Linked DNA regions of Homo sapiens. The protein of the gene in region 1 interacts with the protein of each later gene in a biochemical or structural test. Each region holds a gene or a part of one and is shown in the gene's direction. Other genes may lie near its edges.

Region 1 (3,651 bases):
GTATGAAATATCTGTACAGTTTTTACTTGAATAATTTTTATAGACTTCTGACATAGGATGACCCTAGTCATAAAGTTTACGGCCATATACTTTTGGTTCCACACTTCGCTTCCATACCCCGCCATCTGTGGGACACACTGTATTCACTCTGTGTGTCGGTTTGCTAGGGCTGTCTTGACAAATTACTGCAAACTGATGGCTCAAACAACAGAAATGAATGCTTTCACAGTTCAGGAGGCCAGAAGTCCTAAATCAAGGTGCTGACAGGAGGCCATAGTCTCTCTCCGAGCTACTAGCGGTTGCTAGCAATCCTTGGCATTTCTTGGCTTGCAGCTGTGTAACTCCAATCCCTGCCTCCATTGTCACAAGCCTGTCTCCCCTCTGTGTGTGTCTTCACATGACATTCTCCTCTGAGTGTGTCTGTCTCTGTGTGGGTCTCCTTTTTTTTTTTATTTTTTTTTTGAGATGGAGTTTCCCTCTTGTTGCCCAGGCTGGGGTGCAATGGCGTGATCACAGCTCACGGCAAACTCTGCCTTCTTGCACGTGAATTTTGTGGAATACAATTCAACCCCTTAACACTCTGATTTTCTAGCTCTTTGAACAGATTCTCTAGTTGTCTTTTAGGGTGTTTTAAATACATCCCCTCCAAAAAGAGACAATGGTGTAAGTATACTGGCTTTGGGTTTGTCCCCTGCAGAGTCATAGCTCCCCTGTGTCAGGCACAGCACAGGGGTCTCTGAACCTTACATTCAAGCCATGGCTTGTCTAGTCCTGAGGCACTGCCTGCACATCTGGTTACCCAACTTCTGGAAGGATCCAAGAGACTTGGGGAAGGTCCAGGAAGACAGTGGCACAGAAGGCCTGTTTTCCATGGGCAGGCTGATGAGAGGTCTGTGTCACATGCAGAGGGAATCGTGGCAAAGGTGAGTGTGGGTCTGCTTCTGCAAGCCTCGCAATTTCAGCTGAGTCACAACAGCAAAAGTCCAAGAGAGAGACCAGAAGAAGGCGTAAAGCTTGGGGTGGCTAAGGCTGATATTACAAATAAGTTCCAGAGAGTGAAGTCCAGCCTGTGAGAGGCCCATAGCACTGCCCTTTAGAGGATCAACATGGAGATCGTTAGGTCTCCCTCCAAACCAGCCTGCATGATACTCACTGCTCTGTCAACATATAGCAAAGTGGAACATGGTTCTTTTGTTTTTTTTTTTTTTTGAGACAAAGTCTTGCTCTGTCGCCAGGCTGGAGTGCAGTGGTGCGATCTTGGCTCACTGCAACCTCCACCTCCCAGGTTCAAGCAATTCTCTGCCTCAGGCTCCTGAGTAGCTGGGATTATAGGCGCCTGCCACCACACCTGGCTAATTTTTGTATTTTTAGTAGAGACGGGGTTTCACCATCTTGGCCAGGCTGGTCTTGAACTCCTGACCTCATGAGCCACCCACCTCGGCCTCCCAAAGTGCTGGGATTACAGGTGTGAGCCACCACACCCAGCCGGAACATGGTCTTAACATTAGGAAGAAATCTTTTGATTGGAAAACTTTGAGGGACTTGAGGGATTTTTTTTTTTTTGGTCCTCTTTCTATCACTTCATATTTCCAAATCACTTTTGATGAGCATGTATTTTCCTGTAACTTCCAAAAAATTAGTAAGAGAAAGATCTGGGGTAGCTCTCCCAGCTGATGTGCTGTTTTCTAACCAGTGAGATCTCAGGATAGCACATTCTTTAGACTAACTCAGTTTACCAAATATTCCTGGCATTTGGGCAGTACAAGAGTGTTCCAGAACAAGTCTCTACCCTGACGGAATCTAGAATCTTGAAAGGTGAACAAAGCAACAGATGTGAGCAATTCAAAAGTAGAACAGGACAGTATCCCTCAAGTCCAAAGCATATAAAGTGAAGGCTGGGAGCCTGAGAAGTGCACTGTGGGTCAGGGTGAAAGTTAAGCTTCTGTCTGGCGTCGACACTTGAGTTCCAATGGAAAGGGTCCGACCTTAGTGGAGGAAAAATGTCTTACCCATCCCTCTTTTGCTCTAAGTCTTGCCCTTCCCCACTGGTGTGGGTATCAGGAGGGGATGGGCAGTAATATAACTTTTGTAGGCAGACCTAGGGGCTGCTGCAGCTGGCCTAGTTTATTACCCTAACTCTGCTGGGACTTGCAGTCAGCACTGTCCATGGTCGCTACCCTTTTATAGCCAGGCCCTGATGTCACCCAGCCACAGAGCCTGGGGGTTGGACCATCCCTGTTGCCCCCTGTGCTGGGTGGGCAGAAGGCCTCCTCCACTATGAAGCCACCTTGCACCAAGAAGACACTGGGCACAACTCCTTATGAGGGTTCCCACCCTCAGCCCCATCTCACCTATGAGCCATCTTTGAGGTTCTGTCCCTTTCTCATTTGTTGGTCTTCAGTCCCTGGACACCTTCTCTCCCCAGCCTGACTCATCCCAAAGTTCTCACAAGCAACCAGCATTGTCCCAGTCCAGGTATGGTCTCCCACCCACAGCTGCAGTCATTGACAGGCTGACTCATTCCAGAGATGCCTTTCTGTCTTCCCTAAAGCCCATTCTCACCAGTTAGATCTTGGATGTCCATCTTTTTGCATAGTCTTTAAATTGTCACCAGCAGCTTGAGGCCTCCACACGAGCCTGGTTATACTCAGCATCACTGCATCCACCTGGGATGTTTTCAAACACTTTTGCAGCTCATTGGCTCCCAGAACCCAATTGGAAGCCCTGTGTGATCCTAGGTATAACGTCCCCAACTGGACCATCAGAGCCTTGCACATGGGGCTAGCGTGGTGCCCTTTTCCTCTCCAACTCTCTTGGACTGAATACATGCATATTGCCCCAAGCTCAACTCAAGGGGGTGATTTCTCTGTCTCCATGGGGGATACCTGTATGTGGGGACTCCACGTGCACTCCTCTTGATGTCAGTGTCCTGGAGATGGCTCCCAATTCTGCCCCCCAGCAGGGATCTTCACTGCCCTCTCCTAAGCTGGGACCCATGCCAGCCAATGTGATTTCCTGGCAGACTCTGACCTACTGGCATATTGCCAACCCAGGGCCCAGCTTACATACTAGTAGTCCAGCAAACTCAGAGGGCTACATCTGTACAAACCCATGAACCCAGATCAATTTCAAGTAAACACAGTCCCTTTCTTCTATGGGGTAGGGGAAAAATTAGCATAGAACTGGAGTCTTACAGACATGGACAGAGATTCCCAGCCTACAACTTACTAGGTCTGTGACTTAAGGAAGACGTATGGGCCCTCTGAGCCCCAGTTTTTTCAGCTGTGAAGTGGGAGAAAGGCTTACCTACCTTATAAGGTTTTCATGAGAATTAAATGAGCTGCTGTATATAGAGTGTCTGGCATCCTGCTTGGTCCATGGTAGTCCCCACAAATATTAATTAGTTCTCTTCTTTCTGGGATGCCTCCAGCCTCAGACTATATGTTGTCATCATGGGGATATAGAATTTCATCTCTTGGGCTGGGCGTGGTGGCTCACGCCTGTAATCCCAGCACTTTGGGAGGCCAAAGCAGGTGGATTGCTTGGGGTCAGGAGTTTGAAACCAGCCTGGCCAACATGGTGAAACCCTGTCTCTACTAAACTACAAAAAAAATTAGCTGAGTATGGTGGTGGGCGCCTGTAATCCCAGCT
Region 2 (3,469 bases), on another chromosome or scaffold:
ACCCAGCCCCTATTCAAGATGTAGGCACTCTGGTTCAAACACCTGACATTTTCCCCCTCCCTTTTGTAAGAAAACCCTTAATCCTAAGGGTTGCAGAGGGACAAAGATCCATCTTCTATAACTTCTTCATGCTGAATAGGGTGATGATATTCCTGCTTAACTATTAGGGCCTCTTGTATCCATGGTAGAGAGGGGTTCAGTCAGAAAGGGCCAGTATGGTGAGGGCCATTCATAACTCTTAGTTCTGACAAAAGGTGATATCCAAAGTCCTCCAATCAGTGCTGCAGTCCATTTCCTTTGATTCGGGAGTCTCCTCCGTCTCATCCCTTCTGTGGTTCTCCAGAAAGATGTTACCAGAAAGGGGTCCCGATCCAGACCCCAAGGGAGAGGGTTCTTGGATCTTGCACAAGGTAGAATTCAGGGTGAGTCCATAGAGTAAAGTGAAAGCAAGTTTATTAAGACAGTAAAGGAATAAAAGAATGGCTACTTCATAGGCAGAGGAGCTGCAGCAAGCATCTTTTACACGTAGTCTCTGAAGAGCTCCTTACAATAGAGTTTCCAGGGCAAAACTGCCACCTTAAAGGGCAAGCGATGTCTAAGGTTTTGCCAAATTGCTTCCAGAGTGGTTGCTCTAGAATAACCAGTGGCCAGCAGTGCAGGAGAGCACCTGCTTCCCTGTTCCCTTGGGTGCATTCATTTTTCATTTGGGACAGATATACTAAAAAAGTTGGGGATAAGGATTTTGGCAGCATAATTGTGGAGACAGTGTTGCCAATTCCTGCTCCAGGACCATATGGTTCAGCTGAATATGGCAGAACCAGATTCTCTGCCTGGCTGAATGTCCCTGTCCCCTGCCCTGAGTCTCTTCCAAAATACGCTGAGTGTCTCTTCTCCTTTCCGCCCATCCAGGTGCCTCTAGATAACCATATCCCTGAGAGGGCAGGGTCTGGGAGCCAAGTCCCCACCGAACCCAAGAAACTAGAGGAGAATGAGGTTATCCCCAAGAGAATCTCACCCGTTGAAGAGAGTGAGGATGTGTCCAACAAGGTGTCAATGTCCAGCACTGTGCAGGGCAGCAACATCTTTGAGAGAACGGAGGTCCTGGCAGGTAAGTCCCCATGCTGCTTATAAGATGCCTTGAAGGTGGAATGGGGCTCAGCGGGGGAGAGCACCTGCAGGCAGGGATGCCTCCAGCCATGAGGCTCCTTGGTGCCCCTTCCTTTTGCCTATTCAGGTTGCCCTAGAACATTGAAAGACTACACCTTCCTTATGGGGTGGCTCTGACTGTGCAGCCTGGTGGAGGGAGAGGAAAAAGCACCTATCAAAGTCTTCTGGAAAATAGGCATTGAGTCATTCTTCTGCCTTAAGTCTTTCTCATTTATTTTGCAAAGGACTTTCACTGTATAAGTTTGGCATCTGGGAGTTAATCATTAAAAGTTAATTTCCCTTGTAAGTCTGGAGGCTCCTTCGAATTGGGTTAGCTTCCCCTCCCCCTACTCTATCACTTGGCAGCCTTGTGACCTTGGCTGAGAAGCTTTCGAACTTGATGAGCCTCAGTTTCCTTATCTGTAAAATGGGTACAGTGATACCTTCTGGGGTTGATATAATGAGTCCATGAAAAATAAAATATGAAATAACTTTGCACACTATAAAGGGCTATTCCGATTTGGCCTCAGTTGAGAGTTCTTTACTGGAATGTGCGGTGAGGAATGCTTTGTCCCAGGTGTTGACAAAAGGGATGGAGGGAACTCCCCAAGGTCATGGCCGAGGGCCAGCCTGGATGAACCGGCCTGGCAAGTGGGCACCCTGGGCCCATGCTGGGTAACTCCTGTCTCCTGGGAATCAACAGAGCCAGCAGCTCCAAGGAGGCTTGAGCTATAGGGACAGAGCCTGGCTTCATCCAGGACAGATGGAAGGTCTCACCTGCCTCTTGTAAAGAGGGTTCCTGGGAGCACAGCCCCTGATGACTGGGCCCACCTCAGCCCTGACCCTGGCTTCCTGGTATCTGAGCCAAAGTTCTTTTTACTTTTCTTTCAGAAGTAAAAAGATTTGCATAAGACTTTGGATTTGCATAAGGTTTTGCTCTAATTAACTAAAGGTGCTATTGCTTCTAAAGAAAAATTTGAAAACCACTGATTAATCTAAGCACCTGCTTCTTATACATGGGGAGACTGAGGCCCAGGCTTTAGGCCACATAGTAAGAAAAGAACTGAAGCCAGGTTATCTCTTTAATCTTCCATTTGAGAATTATACAAGCCTAAGAGCCTCATGTGAAAAGTTATATTGTTAGCTGGTGTGGTGGAATCCCCCATTCCAGAAGCTTTAATCAGCACCCAGGAGCCTTATTAAATGCTTGCTGTATGCTGTATGATTCCTGTGCCCCTGATTGAGTCCGTACAACACAAAACTCAGTCTAAAGAACTTATCCGAAGTCACAAAGCTGGAAGTGGCAGACCTGGCATTTGGACTGAGGACCACAGTCAGCTTCTGAGCCTGTGCTTGAAACTTGACCCTGTGGGGCATCCCAGCGCAGACCCAGGGCCTCGTGGAGGAACTGGGGTCATCAGAGGGAAAGGTGATAGAGACAAGAATGGGGTTGATGCCTGATATTCCATGTGCTTGCTCTGGCACCTCCTGGGGGTACTTTTTTGTTGCTTTTTCATAGGATTTTACCCAAGAAAGAACCTTGCTTGACTCCTCTGTGCCACTCTGTCCCCATTGTGTACATAGATTTGTAGTGTGTGCAGGGATGGAAAATTAATCTTCTTAGCCCGAGTAAGACCGAATTAGGGAACTCAATCTGCCACAGAAGGGATTCTATGAAGCATCCCTGCCCCTAGCAAACAGGAATGAGTCATTCAGGCCACCTGGCAGAGTGGACAGGCCAGACCCACTCACTGTTAGAAGCCCATCTCTGCCCAACACTAGGCAGGTTCTCCTCTCGGAGCCTGAAAGTATCATTTATTAAGCACCTCCTGTTGTGCACACCTGATTCAGGGGGTTCGGGACACAGATATAAACCTTAAACCCTTACAGTTAATGAATCTTGAGAATATGCTATGCACTAGGCATTGTTCTAAGCACTTTGAGTGGATTAATTTATTTAATCCTTAGGACAAATGTATGAGAAAGGTATGGCTCTTCCCATTTTGCGGTAGGGAGATGAAGGAAACTTGCCCCAAATCACACAGCCAGGAAGTAGGAGAGGTAGGAGTGGAAACCAGGCCTTAGCTACTGAGTTCTGTATGTAATTGTAACATAAGAGTTTGGAATTAGTATGTTCTGCATGTGTGCACTTTGAATGTACATACCTGTCTATGAAGTGTAGGCTATATAGGTAAATATGCACACAGGGAGAGCTAGAGAGTGCCCTGTGCTAAGGACTGCAGGATAAATATGTCTACAGGGATTTCCATAGCCTACGGTTTTCTCCTGTTCCTGGTTCAGTTAGTGCTAGACTGTTGCAGGG

The links. Proteins that work in one complex are often made in the same cells at the same time.
Region 2: the proteins of LDB3 (region 1) and SDC4 interact in a test that uses a peptide from one of them, tested with the Homo sapiens proteins (one large-scale study listed by IntAct).

What each region holds. Positions count from the first base shown.
Region 1 is NC_000010.11:86,727,393-86,731,043, forward strand, and holds part of LDB3 (LIM domain-binding protein 3), read left to right. Parts: intron 1-3,651. UniProt on the Homo sapiens protein: May function as an adapter in striated muscle to couple protein kinase C-mediated signaling via its LIM domains to the cytoskeleton.
Region 2 is NC_000020.11:45,328,005-45,331,473, reverse strand, and holds part of SDC4 (syndecan-4 precursor), read left to right. Parts: intron 1-909; coding exon 910-1,108; intron 1,109-3,469. UniProt on the Homo sapiens protein: Cell surface proteoglycan which regulates exosome biogenesis in concert with SDCBP and PDCD6IP.